Linked DNA regions of Homo sapiens. The protein of the gene in region 2 purifies or fractionates together with the protein of the main gene of each other region. This does not show direct contact. Each region holds a gene or a part of one and is shown on either strand. Other genes may lie near its edges.

The links. Proteins that work in one complex are often made in the same cells at the same time.
Region 1: the proteins of IMMP1L (region 2) and ZER1 purify together in Homo sapiens (affinity purification with mass spectrometry; 2 studies listed by BioGRID and IntAct, with this or other methods). This does not show direct contact.
Region 3: the proteins of IMMP1L (region 2) and PRKAG1 purify together in Homo sapiens (affinity purification with mass spectrometry; one large-scale study listed by BioGRID and IntAct). This does not show direct contact.
Region 4: the proteins of IMMP1L (region 2) and ANAPC7 purify together in Homo sapiens (affinity purification with mass spectrometry; one large-scale study listed by BioGRID and IntAct). This does not show direct contact.

What each region holds. Positions count from the first base shown.
Region 1 is NC_000009.12:128,737,428-128,740,927, forward strand, and holds part of ZER1 (protein zer-1 homolog), read right to left. Parts: intron 3,461-3,500; coding exon 3,345-3,460; intron 2,693-3,344; coding exon 2,504-2,692; intron 1-2,503. UniProt on the Homo sapiens protein: Serves as substrate adapter subunit in the E3 ubiquitin ligase complex ZYG11B-CUL2-Elongin BC. Acts to target substrates bearing N-terminal degrons for proteasomal degradation with the first four residues of substrates being the key recognition elements.
Region 2 is NC_000011.10:31,450,425-31,454,304, forward strand, and holds part of IMMP1L (mitochondrial inner membrane protease subunit 1), read right to left. Parts: intron 1-3,880. UniProt on the Homo sapiens protein: Catalyzes the removal of transit peptides required for the targeting of proteins from the mitochondrial matrix, across the inner membrane, into the inter-membrane space. Known to process the nuclear encoded protein DIABLO.
Region 3 is NC_000012.12:49,005,277-49,008,776, forward strand, and holds part of PRKAG1 (5'-AMP-activated protein kinase subunit gamma-1), read right to left. Parts: intron 3,324-3,500; exon of another isoform or gene 3,150-3,323; intron 577-3,149; coding exon 467-576; intron 317-466; exon of another isoform or gene 268-316; coding exon 186-267; intron 116-185; coding exon of another isoform or gene 89-115; coding exon 30-88; intron 1-29. UniProt on the Homo sapiens protein: AMP/ATP-binding subunit of AMP-activated protein kinase (AMPK), an energy sensor protein kinase that plays a key role in regulating cellular energy metabolism.
Region 4 is NC_000012.12:110,390,209-110,393,708, forward strand, and holds part of ANAPC7 (anaphase-promoting complex subunit 7), read right to left. Parts: intron 1-3,500. UniProt on the Homo sapiens protein: Component of the anaphase promoting complex/cyclosome (APC/C), a cell cycle-regulated E3 ubiquitin ligase that controls progression through mitosis and the G1 phase of the cell cycle.

The DNA.
Region 1 (3,500 bases), on a different chromosome or scaffold from region 2:
ACGCTACCAATGTCAGCCTGTTCCTCCCAGTATGGGTTTTCAACTGAAATGTCCATCTGTACAGGATGGCACAAAGAAAGTGACTCCGTCCTAAAATGACGAGGGAGATCCATGCCTGGTGATTGGCCAGTCAGTCACAAAACAGTAGGAATTGATGCCAGCTTGACTTAAAGTAATGAAATCTGTGCATAGAAACACTGCTGGAAGGAGACACACCAAAATGTCAACAGGAGTTCTCTTTCAGGGAGTGAGATTATGAACGATTCTTGTTTTCTTCTTCTTCTTTTTTTTTTGAGATGGAGTATCACTCTGTTGCCCAGGCTGGAGTGCAGTGGCGAGTTCTTGGCTCACTGCAACCTCTGCCTTCCAGGTTCAAGTGATTCTCCTGCCTCAGCCTCCCAAGTAGCTGGGATTACAGGTGCCCACCACCATGCCTGGCTAATTTTTGTATTTTTAGCAGAGATGGGGTTTCACTGTGTTGGCCAGGCTGGTTTCGAACTCCTGACCTCAGGTGATCCGCCTGCCTCAGCCTCCCAAAGTGCTGGGATTACAGGTGTGAGCCACTGTGCCCGGCCCTGTTTTGTTTTCTTGTTTTTTTTATTCATTTTTATTTTTATTTTTATTTATTTATTTTTGAGACGGAGTCTCGCTCTGTCGCCCAGGCTGGAGTGCAGTGGCGCGATCTTGGCTAACTGCAAGCTCCGCCTCCCAGGTTCACGCCATTCTCCTGCCTCAGCCTCCCGAGTAGCTGGGACTACAGGCGCATGCCACCACGCCCGGCTAATTTTTTGTATTTTTAGTAGAGGTGGGGTTTCACTGCGTTAGCCAAGATGGTCTCGATTTCCTGACCTCATGATCTGCCCGCCTCTGCCTCCCAAAGTGCTGGGATTACAGGTGTGAGCCACTGTGCCCGGCCCTGTTTTGTTTTCTTGTTTTTTTAATTTATTTTTATTTTTATTTTTATTTATTTATTTTTGAGACGGAGTCTCGCTCTGTCGCCCAGGCTGGAGTGCAGTGGCGCGATCTCGGCTAACTGCAAGCTCCGCCTCCCAGGTTCACACCATTCTCCTGCCTCAGCCTCCCGAGTAGCTGGGACTACAGGCGCATGCCACCACGCCCGGCTAATTTTTTGTATTTTTAGTAGAGGTGGGGTTTCACTGCGTTAGCCAAGATGGTCTCGATTTCCTGACCTCATGATCCGCCCGCCTCTGCCTCCCAAAGTGCTGGGATTACGGGTGTGAGCCACCGCGCCTGACCTTCTTCTTTTTTTTAAAGAAATGGTCTCATTCTGTCCCCTAGGCTGGAGTGCAGTAGCATGATGTTGGCTCACTACAGCCTCGACCTCCTGGGCTCAAGTGACCCTCCTGCCTCAGCCTCCCCAGTAGGTGGGACTACAGGTGTGCACCATCACACCCAGCTCATTTTTTTTTTTTTTTTTTTTTGAGATGGAGTCTTGGTCTGTTGCCCAGGCTGGAATGCAGTGGCGCCATCTCGGTTCACTGCAACCTCTGCCTCCTGGGTTCAAGCGATTCTCCTGCCTCAGCCTCCTGAGTAGCTGGGATTACAGGTATGTGCCACCACGCCAGGTTAATTTTTGTATTTTTAGTAGGGACGGGGTTTCACCATGTTGGGCAGGCTGGTCTTGAACTCCTGACCTCGTGATCTGCCCGCCTCAGCCTCCTAAAGTGCTATGATTACAGGCGTGAACCACTGCACCTGGCCTGATTTTTAAAATTTTTCGTAAAGAGGAAGTCTCACTATGTTGCCCAAGCTGGTCTTGAAATCTTGGGCTCAGCTGGACGCAGTGGCTCATGCCTGTAATCCCAGCACTTTGGGAGGCCGACGTGGGCGGATCACGAGGTCAGGAGATCGAAACTATCCTGGCTAACACGGTGAAAACTCGTCTCTACTAAAAATACAAAAAAATTAACCGGGCGTGGTGGCGGGTGCCTGTAATCCCAGCTACTCTGAGGCTGAGGCAGGAAAATGGCGTGAACCCAGGAGGCAGAGCTTGCAGTCAGCTGAGATTGCACCACTGCACTCCAGCCTGGGCGACAGAGCAAGACTCTGTCTCAAAAAAAAAAAAAAAAGAAAAGAAAGGAAATCTTGGGCTCAAGTGATCCTCCTGTCTCAGCTTCCCAAAGTGCTGGGATTATGGGCAAGAGCTACTGTGCCCGGCCCACCTGTATGGTTTTCTGTTGTGTGTCTATTTTCTCCCCACCCCTCCCCACAAATCAGTAGGTATTAGTGGTTTGCAAAGAGCAGGCTTTGGGTACATGCAGATGTTGGCATGTATGACAAATGCTCCAGGCTGCACGGATGAGATCGTGCCCTTATGTATGCTCTGTGCTGTGTGCGGCTACGTATCAATGAGTGAAAGCAGAACCCTACAGAAGACCAGAAGGAAGGTGGGAGCTCTGAGCAGACCTTAATGGTATGAGCATCCTGCCCAGCACTTACCCCATATTCCACACCGCATCCCCGCTCCCTGCCCTGCCCACACCTGTAATTGATGTTTCTCCGAGAGTTTATGTCCCAGCTCTGGATGGCAGCCCACATGCGTTCCTCCACCTCCTCACGCTGGGGCTCACAGACGCCCCAGGCCTCGGGTCCATCAAACATGATGTGGGAGAGGACGCCGCAGGCATTGTAGGAAACCTCGATCCCATCGGCCTTGCTCTCCAACAGGTTGCTGCCAGGAGAAAGACAGAAAAATGGAGTCCCACTCCCCCAGTTTCTCTTCAGATACCAGCGGCAGGACCCCAACTTAAAACCAGAAGCAAGAGGTGCTACTTATTTCTTTATCCCATATCGTCTATATACCCAGACTACTTCTAAAGGGATTTGAGGTCATTTAAGATATAATTACAGGCTGGGCGCAGTGGCTCACGCCTGTAATCCCAGCACTTTGGGAGGTCAAGGCAGGTGGATCACGAGGTCCGGAGATCGAGACCATCCTGGCTAACATGGTGAAACCCCATCTCTACTAAAAATACAAAAAAATTAGCTGGGCGTGGTGGCAGGCGCCTGTAGTCTCAGCTACTCGGGAGGCTGAGGCAGGAGAATGGCGTGAACCCGGGAGGCAGAGCTTGCAGTGAGCCTAGATTGTGCCACTGCACTTCAGCCTGGGTGACAGAGCAAGACTCCATCTCAAAAAAAAAAAAAAAGATATAATTACAAAAGGACCACTTACGAAGGATTGAATGAATAAGAAACCACATTATCGAGGGAAAATGACATTTATAGCAAACCTAGGCTAAGAGCAGTTGTGCAACTGAGCAAACGCTAGAGCTCTGAGCATTGTGGCAGCTAAGGCAAAAAGGGAAAGGATTAAAAATACCAACCTGAAGACGCTGATGAACTGGGAAGTCATTAGTTGAGGCCTCAGCTCCTTCACTTCTGCCACATTCCCCAAAAGTCCTAGCATATTCCTATGCAGTTCCTGCTTCTCTGGGAATTCCTGGGAAAAGGAGAGCCAATGGGCCGCATCAATTAGTACT
Region 2 (3,880 bases):
ATTCCATAGTGATAAGTCAATTCAGAGCCTGGTGAATTTTTATTCTGCTTAAAGAAAGGCCTGAAAAATATGCAGTCCTAAATAGAAGTCACTTAGGAAAAGAAACATTTAATCAGCACTCTGCTCTCCTGGTACACCGTAAGAGGAACATTCCAATATTTTCTACAACTTTCACCTGCCATTGTCATAAGGTGGTCAGGTAGTCTTATCACTGGAAATAGCTTAGCTTTCAAGTCTATGAAGACTAGAATGACCACAGATTGGGCAGTTCAGCAGCGTGGTAGGCTCCATGAACATCTTCTGAGAAGTTGTAACATCATGCATTTACTTGGGAGCAAGTTTGCAGTAGAAACTAGTAGAAAAAAAGGAGTAGAAGTAGAAAAGAAACTAGCACCCTATTCATATATATCTAGATCTGTCCACCCTTCAAGAATTTTAAAAAATCTACTAGATGCCAAATCACAGTTGAAATGATATGAAATCAACTGCGATTAAAATGAGTCCCTGTCACCAAGAATCTTATGCTCTAGATCAGGGGGTCAGCAAACTTTTCCTGAAAAGGGACAAATAGGAAATAGTCCAGGTGTTGCAAGCCATATAGTTTCTGTCACAACTATTCAACTTTGACATTTTAGAGAAAGCAAACACAGACAACAGATAAATGAATGGGCATTATTGTGTTCCAATGACACAATAATTACAAGAAAGGCAGCAGGCAAAATGATTATGCAGGGTCTTGCAGGCCACCATAAGGCCTATGGCTTTTACTGTAAGTGAGATGGGGAGCCACTGGGGTCTTTAAGCAGAAGAGTGACATAATTGCTCTTAAAAAGCATCATCATCAAAAAGGATGACCTTAGCTGCGGTGTGGAGAGTATAATGGAAAGGGTAGAGATGCCAGAAAATCGGAAGGGTATAAGCAAAGAAAACAGTTCAAAAATTATTGCAACAAAATGAGAGAGATGAGTTTATCTTGCAAACTAATGGATGGTAGCAGTGACAGTGGCAAAACGTGGTTTGATTCTGATTATATATAGAAGGTATAATCATGATTTGCTACGGGATTGGATGTAGGGTGAAAGAGGAGAGTAAGGATAACTCTAAGGTTTGTGGCCTGAACAAGTAGCATGGGGTTTTCTTCCCCATATGATGGGAAGTGTATGGAAGGAGCCATTTTGGGACAGAAAATCAGGATTTTAGCTTTGGATACAGTAAGTTTGAGATGACCATTATTCATTAAAGTGAAGATATTAGACAATTAGACATGACTCTGGAGTTCAGGGAAGAGGTTATACTTGATATAAATTTGAGAGTAAGTTAAAAAGTACTGTACATAAAACCATGAGACAGGATGAGGTCAGCTAAAGTATAAGTGTAGATAAACAACAGAAGTTTAAAATATGAACCTTTAGTTAACTTCAGGGTTTGAAGGTCATTCCAATGTTTGGATATGAGGAGGAACCAATAAAGGAAATTCAGAAGAAAGATAGGAAAAAAACCTAGAAAAAGCAGTGTCCCAAAAACTAAGTGAAACCAGGTTTTGAGAACAACTATTTCAAATATTAACAATAGGTCAAGTATGATGAGGACTGAGAGTTGATCACTGGAGAGACAACAAGAGAAGTCATTAGCGACTTTGACAAGAACCATCAGTGAAGTGGTGGAGACCAAAGTCTAACTGGAATGAGTTCGAAAAAATAATATGAAGCTCAGAGTGGAGTAACTATACACAACTCTTCCCTATAGGAGGATGTGGTGTCATGGGAGTTTGTTTAGATGCAGATTTTACAACATGTTTGTTGATAGGAATTTACCATATTTCAAAATGCCTATTTCATAGTTATCCCATGGATTAAAAGCATAGTCCTGGATTATCACACAATATTATACTAATAAACATTATGAGTGCTTTTCTTCTTCTTTTAATTGGCTTTATAACAAAATTATAGTGTATTTCTGAGCCCTGGCCCTACATTCCCTAAGGGAATTAAATAGAGGTTTACTTTGCATTTTGCCTGCTGTGCAAACCAATAGGAGAATGCCAACTCATTTTATTTATTTCTTATTTGCTACATGCTCCTACTTCCAACTAAATTATTTTTTCTGATAAAGCAGTGGCTTCAAGCAGCAAACTGAGGAATTCCTGTAGAATATACAGAAAGGCAACATACTCAAGATGTCTGAGCTTATGACAATTTGTTTCTTTTGAGAGTCACAAATTAATCTCATATCTTTACAGTAGCCAATGCTCAGTTCATACATAACCCCAGGAAAGAATTATTGGCTTCAGTACCTTCAAAATAAGGAAAGCAAACAGCATCTTTTTTTTTCTTTTCTTTTCTTGAGACGGAGTTTCGCTCTTGTTGCCCAGGCTGCAGTGCAGTGGCGCGATCTCGGCTCACTGCAACCTCCACCTCCCAGGTTGAAGCGATTCTCCTGCCTCAGCCTCCCAAGTAGCTGAGATGACAGGCGCCTGCCACCACGCCTGGCTAATTTTTTGCATTTTTAGCAGAGACAGGGTTTCACCATGCTGGGCAGGCTGGTCTCAAACTCTTGACCTCAGGTGATCTGCCTGCCTTGGCCTCTCAAAGTGCTGGGATTACAGGCGTGAGCCACCGCGGCCGGCCAGCAACAGCATCTTAATAGGAACTGCTTAGTTTCCAAATACCTAACAGTAAAAAATAAAGCTGATTTATAAGCGTTGCTTGCCATGTGGTCTTTTAAAACTCTGGAATGGAAAACAAACAAACAAAAAAGAACTCTGGAAAGAATAAAATGATCCCACATCACTACATCACTTAACCAATGATTTGTTTATGTTCTTTTCTGCCAACCTACAAACAATGCTATTTCTTTGATATGCTAAACTCTACAGGCTAGGTTCCAATGAACAATTTTGGTGTTTTGCTTTCTGAAGCACCTACATACAAGAATAAACTTTTTTTGCCTGGAATTCAAAACATATTTTAATATTGTTCATTTTATTAAGCAGCTCAATCAAGATATGAATAGCAGGATCTTCATCTCATAAACAACAATGATTTTTCTTAGAGGATGCAGAGGTAAGGGGAAGAAACTCATTTCGTAAAATATTGCACCAGTGTGCTTCTGAAATAGCTAAAAAAAGGGACACACGAGAGGGGTAGACCCTGCGAACATTTTGGCTATGTTTTCAGAGCACTCCAAACTTGGATGAAATTTTGTTATAAATCACCTTGATTAATGGAACACATTTGCTAAAGCGGTTCTGTAATAGCTACACAATTCTTAGGACTTGAATAACCCAGCATAGAAAAACTGGCAAGGGAGAAACCCTCAAAAACACTGGCTTGTCTTTCAGAACCAATACTGCCCCTGATCAGAAATACTTCCCTGTGTTTTTTTAAAAATAATAAAGACAAATACTTTTTAAAGTAAGTATAATTTGATGACATAGGAACAGAATAGATAGGCAAAGGGTATTCTGAAAGAAGTAGTAGTGGCATCGTGAGGGTTACAGATTCTGAAGCCACTATATGTGTTTCAATCCTAATTCTTCCTCTCACTGTTCGAAATTGGGCAATTTATTTAGCCTCCTTCTTTAGATTACCTATCAGTAAAATACTGTTACCTACTCATCGGGTTGCTGTTGTGATAATTAAATAAGTTAACCTTTGAAAAGATTCTCAACAGTATGGAGGAAGTACAAAATAAGTGCTGACCAAGATTATTAGAATGATGTACTGTATACTTATAAATTTGTCCAACAAAAGTGAATGGAATACACCTGGAACAAAATGGCAATGTCATATAATTTGCACATTTATCAAACATATAAAAACTCGGTAATAGAACACCCTACTGGTGTTCTACCACACAGTAGGGTGATTATGGTTAACAA
Region 3 (3,500 bases), on a different chromosome or scaffold from region 2:
ATTTTGGTCATTGGGTTAAGGTTCCTTACCAAGGCTGATTTATAGTAGCGGTGCAGGATATTGATGAAATCAGTGATGGTCAGCATGCCTAGAGGACAAGACAGAGCCCTCAGCACTGCCTGAAGCTTGTCTCCCTGCCCAGCACAAGATGCCAATAATATTGTGTTCCAGAAACTTTTGCTTACCCACAAAACTTTGCTTCTTACTATCCCATAAAGGGGCAGCTCGTACACCGTTAGTCACCAAAGCAAAAAAAGCTTTCTTCACCTGTAGCCAAGACAGTAATAATCATAAAGGCAAATCCACAGGGGCAGGACTGTAAAAAAAGAACAGTGTTTGGGCATGTTGGGTAAAACATGAGACTAACTTCACAGAAGGATAAGGATATTACCCTTAGGATGAGATAGGATGAGAGGTATTAAACCACAGGCTCCAAAGGGGGAAGGGAAAAGAGGATTTCACCCACCTGCAGGGACGTATCAAATACAACCAATTTGGAGCTTGTGGGAATCAGGTCATAGCAGCGATGAGACTTCATGAAGGAAGTATACACGCTATTGTTGGATTCTGGGGTCTCTGCATAGGGTGGGATAGTTAGTAGCTTCCTTCCACATAAAAACTCCCAATCAAAAGAGACAGAAAACAAAATAGTGTTCTAGTATCTCAAATATTTAGAGCATTATTTTTTAATAAGACCCCTTATTTTATCTGTCTTGTTCCTATTGTTTCCACAAAACCTGGATAAACCTCTTAGAAACCATTTCATCCAACCCCTGTCTCCAGGTTAAGACTTTATCTATTGGTCCCTATAGGTAAAAGAAGTTGACTAAAACATAAAGCCTATAGTATCTCTCTTTAACATGTTATAGTCTAAAAATGTTTCTCATCTTTAATCCAAGCTTTCCCTTTCATATACTTAGCACATTTTCACTTTCCTCTTTTTTCAATGAAGTAAGCTTCTTAAAATTCTTCCAAGACTGTGCTGGGGATGGTGGCAAGCACCTGTAATCCCAGCTACTCAGGAAGTTGAGGCAGAGGATCACTTGAACCCAGGAGCTCGAGGCCAGCCTGGGCAACACAGCGAACCCCTGTCTCAATTAAAAAAAAAATTATTCTAAGACCTGCAAATGGGAAAGTCATGGTCCAAGTTGGGCCATTTCTCATTAACAATAAGTTGGAGCCCAGTGCTCAATCAACCTGGCTCAAAACACCCTGATAGTCCATTCTGGGATCACCCTGTAAATCAGAAATCATCCCACCTACTCTAGACAAATGGGAGATCCTGGCTAGTTTACCTTTTTCTATTCCTGTGATTTTAATTGCTTGCTCTAAACTAGGGAAGTAATCTCCCAAAATAATAGCTTGAATGTGCTACATACTATACTACGTGCACTTAAAAATATTACATTGAGGCTGGGCGTGGTGGCTCATGCCTGTAATCCCAGAACTTTGGGAGGCCAAGGTGGGAGGATCACCTGAGGTCGGGAGTTCAAGACCAGCCTGACCAACATGGATAAACCCTGTCTCTATTAAAAATACAAAATTAGCCGGGCATGGTGGCGCATGCCTGTAATCCCAGCTACTCGGGAGGCTGAGGCAGGAGAATTGCTTGAACCCGGGAGGCAGAGGTTGCGATGAGCCGAGATCGCAACATTGCACTCCAGCCTGGGCAACAAGAGTGAAACTCCGTGTCAAAAAAATAAATAAATAAATAAATAAATTACATTGGCTGGGCGTGGTGGCTCACACCTGTAACCCAGGACTTTGGGAGGCCAAGGTGGGTGGATCACCTGAGGTCAGAAGTTTGAGACCAGCCTGGCCAACATGGCGAAACCCCGTCTCTACTAAAAAAATATAAAAATTAGCCAGGCGTGGTGGCACGTGCCTGTAGTCCCAGCTACTCAGGGGGCTGAGGCAGGAGAATTGCTTGAACCCAGGAGGTGGAGGTTGCAGTGAGACGAGATTGTGCCTCTGCACTCCAGCCTGGGCGACAGAGTGAGACTCCGTCTCAAAAAAAAAAAAAAAAAATTACATAATTTAATCCTTACAACAAATGTGTAAGTAATGTCCTCATGTTTCAGATGAGAAAATAGGTGTAGTTAAATAAACTGCTCAAGGTCACACCATTAATAAGTGGCAAGAAAGACTCAAACAAACCCAGATCTGTTTCCAAACTTCATGCTCTTAAGTCTTTAATCAATTTGGTTTTTAATATTTATTTTTTTAACCAAAGTTATATAGACACACAGTTAAATCAGTCCAACAGTTTTACAAATTTTGTTAAGAAAAAATTGCACTCCTTGCAACCCACCTCCCTGTACTACCCTTCCCCAGAGATGAGAACATCTATCTACCTTAGTTGATTATTTTGGTACTTAATTCTATGTCCTTAAATAACATGCTTGTATTGCTAGTTTCCATTTTTTTTTTCATTTTGGGGCATTATTTATCATCTATCTACCAAAGAAGATGAGAATTTCTAGTTCTCTCTCCTACTAGGACTCCACCACAAACACGTACTTCCCATTCTCCTCATTATTCCAGGAGCTAAACCATAATGTTGGTTATATCCGTATTTCAATCTTTTTTTTTTTTTTTTTTGAGAGGGAGTCTTGCTCTGTCACCCAGGCTGAAGTGCAGTGGCACGATCTCAGGTTACTACAACCTCAGCCTTCCAGGTTCAAGCGATTCTCCTGCCTCAGCCTCGCAAGTAGCTGGGGTTACAGGTGCCCGCCACCATGCCCGGCTAAATTTTGTATTTTAGTAGAGACAGGGTTTCACCACATTGGCCAGGCTGATCTCGAACTCCTGACCTCATGTGATCTGCCCGCTTTGGCCTCCCAAAGTGCTGAGATTACAGGAATGAGCCACTGCACCCGGCCAGTATTTAAATCATTTTGACTGAATATTTATTATTCAGAGATAAGCCAAATAGTAAACTCTGATTTTTTTTTCTTCCTTCACAACTTTGTTTTACCTGGAGTTAATGTCTTGTCCTTTTGTTTAATTTTCTATGTATAATTCTTATAACTAATCCAACCCCCAAATGCTTCACCAACTATTTAAATCTCCTTTTAAGAGGTTCAAAAGCATTAGACAGTCTATCAAAATTTAAACTACCCAAAGAAATCTCCCTGGAGCCTTCTGACCTGCTCAAATCTGGGCTGGTTTGTCTGGTGTGCACTGCTGTCATCCTGGGATCTTTCTTCATCACCATCCTGGGTACCCCTTTCACGTCTGTCCTCTACTGGTGCTCCTATATCGCGTTTTTATCTTTTTTGATTACTCCCTTATTTTGGTGGAACACATCTTCCAGTAGCTTCCTGAGAAAGGGTGCATGGGAGGTATGTGTTTTTGAGACCTTGCAGCCTGTAGATATCTTTATTCTACCCTCATCCTTGGATTTATAATTCGGCTGAATAGAGAATCTGCAGGAAAGCTTGGAATGTGTTTTCCTGCAGAATGTTGAAGGCATTGCTCCATTGCCTGCTAGCTGCTGG
Region 4 (3,500 bases), on a different chromosome or scaffold from region 2:
CAGGCACCCGCCACCACGCCCAGCTAATTTTTTTTTTGTATTTTAAGTAGAGATGGTGTTTCACCATGTTGGCCAGGCTGGTCTTGAACTCCTGACCTCAGGTGATCCAACCACCTCGGCCTCCCAAAGTGCTGGGATTACAGGCGTGAGCCACCGTGTCTGGCAAAATTAGTAGATTTTAAACACAACAGTATTTGCTAGATCATTAACCTAAGGAAGCAGTCAATGTGAGGGCACAAAAGAAAAAAGGTCAACCCCCAATCTCTTCGATTTAACTGTGGCTTGGTATGCCAGATATTTATAGAAAGAGTGGCTCTAAAGATAAAGAACATCTGTTCCAATTATAGACCTACATTATATAAAACAATCTAATATAGCATTGATTCACACTAATTCAAACAATGGAATAATGAAATACTAAAAATAAAACTATTTTTTACTTGGCCTCAGATTTTCCATATTAGGCTACTATTTTGAAAATGCAAAGAAAAATACTTAAAAGGAAAACTCCAGGATTGATGTCAATACTTGTAAAGAATAAAAAGTTAAATTTAAGATCCTTTCTTGACTGCTGGTTATATTAACAAACTATGACTGATGGACTATCTTTCTCAACAAATATCAAAATTTCCTTTAAGCTACTTGACTGTCACTTTAAAAGAATGAGTTTTGAGTAATACCTAATGAAAAAGTCAATTATTGGCCGGGCGCAGTGGTTCACACCTCTAATCCTAGCACTTTGGGAGGCCGAGGTGGGTGGATCACGAGGTCAGGAGATCGAGACCAGCCTGGCCAACATGGTGAAACCCCGTCTCTACTAGAATACAAAAAATTAGGCAGGTGCAGCGGTACGCGCCTGTAGTACCAGCTACTCAGGAGGCTGAGACAGGAGAATCGCTTGAACCCAGGAGGTGGAGGTTGCAGTGAGCTGAGATCATGCCATTGCACTCCAGCCTGGGCAACAGAGAGAGACTCCATCTCAAACAAACAAACAAAAAAAGTCAACTATTTTAAAAATAGATACTCACTTAAAAACATCATAAAGCCACATTCCACCAGTTATAAACACAAGCAGTCATCATTTTCTAAAAACTGAGTAAGAAATTCTATGTTGGTATGTTTACTCTTAAAAGGTGAAGATTTACCAAGATTTAATAATCTAACACTGGAATTTTCCTTTAAAATGTGAGGGAATATGTGGCGATGTTTACCATATATTAACAGACATTCATTTAGACACATTTTGACTCACTTCCTTGTCCTTTACATAGACTGAGAAGCCAGTTAACTCCCTAACAGACAAGAAAGAAAAACTGTAAATGTTATAGGTTTATGTTTGAGGCACACATCTTTGCTCCTAGCTGTAAGAGCACTACAGAATGAAGGATATGTACTGCTGACAAATGCAGACTCATACAGGTGCTCTAAGAATGATGGCAATGAAAATCAAGCAGTGGATGCTATAAAGCTGAGATGCTTTAACATTACTATTTTCAAAAAAAAGTCCTACAAATATCCACAGGTCATTATGAAGGAGATTATGGTATATTTCTAATAAAGTAAGGAATAGTATCCTTCAAAGTTTATAATTAAAATGGCTTCTTGGCCGGGCGTGGTGGCTCATGCCTGTAATCCCAGCACTTTGGGAGGCCAAGGCAGGCGGATCACCTAAGGTCAGATCGAGACCATCCTGGCCAACATGGTGAAACCCCGTCTCCACTAAAATGCAAAAAAGTAGCTGGGCGTGGTGGCACACGCCTGTAGTCCCAGCTACTCGGGAGGCTGAGGTAGGGGAATCGCTTGAACCCGGGAGGTGGAGGTTGCAGTGAGCCAAGATTGTGCCACTGCACTCCAGCCTGGCAACACAGCAAGACTCCACCTCACAAAAAAAAAAAAAAAAAAAAAAAAGGCTTCTTACAAAAGGAAGATACCTTGAGCATTGCAGCAGACATTCTTCATCTGTGCAACAAGATTATTCTTGGAGTAAGAGAAGACTTTCATAGGTTACCAGAACAGGATTTAGTATACAGCATCCAGGCTTATGATGAGAGAGGTTAATTCATAATAAACTTTCAAGTGTTTTTAATAGCAGCCACCATCATACTGAAGAAATAGCTTCAAAAACTCAGAAAATAGTAAATAATACCTTAATATGAGGAGGTGCTTAAACATGTTCTCATCAAGTTTGGTTACTTTTAAAGTTCAGCAAGACTTGGATGAAGCAGCACTAACTAAAATACACCAGGCCCCTACTGCTTAGATTTCGTATCTTTTAAAGGCAGGAGGATGCACCTGTCATTTTACCTATAAAATTCCTTATTGTTAAGCACAAGTTGCACAAAACAGTTTTTCAATAAAATGAGCAAGGCAGGAGACATGACAGTATTATTAGAATATTAAATACTGATATATTCTCACATTCATGAATTTATTTGGTATTTATAAAAGTAACAGAAAAAATACTATTCTTCTCATTTTATAAATAAAAAAGTAGTAAAGCTCACAAATTGGTAACTTGCCCAAGTTCACACTGCACACAGCTTGTATGCACCTAAACTCAAACTAGACACCAGATCTTTTTTTGTTTGTTTTTTTGTTTTTTTTGAGATGGAGTTTCACTCTTGTTGCCCAGGCTGGAGTGCAATGGCACCACGTCGGCTCACCGCAACCTCTGCCTCCTGGGTTCAAGCGATTCTCCTGCCTCAGCCTCCAGAGTAGCTGAGATTACAGGCATGCGCCACCACACCCGGCTAATTTTATATTTTTAGTAGAGACGGGGTTTCTCCATGTTGGTCAAGCTGGTCTCGAACTCCCAACCTCAGATGATTCACCCACCTCGGCCTCCCAAAGTGCTGGGATTACAGGCATGAGCCACCATGCCCAGCCGACACCAGATCTTTTGATTTTAGTTAAAGGTGTTTTCTTCACTATAATATGCTGCCAAATCAAACACAAAGACATATTCTACACATAAATAAGGATAAAAGAATCTTACAGTATTAATTTTCAAAACAAAGGAATAAAACCACCCCCATTACCAAATGTGTACACCTATGGAAGGCAAAAAATGAAGTTCTAAAAAAGTATTTTTGCCACCTGGAAGTGTTTTGCAAATAAATCATTATTTCCTATAATAAGAAATATCAAAGTCTTCTCTGCCTATGGAGTAGCCATTCTTTATTCCTTTATTTTATTAATAAACTCACTTTCACTTAAAAACAAAAACAAACACAAGGAGGCCAGGTGCAGTGGCTCCTGCCTGTAATCCCAGCAATTTGGGAGGCTAAGGGGGGAGGACAACTTGAGCCCAGAAGTTTGGGACCAACCTGGGCAAATGGTGGAGACCATCTCTATTTAAAAAAAAGAAAAAAAAAATTGGCCGGGCATGGTGGCTCCCACCTGTAACCCCAGCACTCTGTGAGGCCGAGGTGGGTGGATCACCTGAAGTCGGGAGTTCAAGACCAGCCTGACCAACATGGAGAAACCCAGTCTCTACTAAA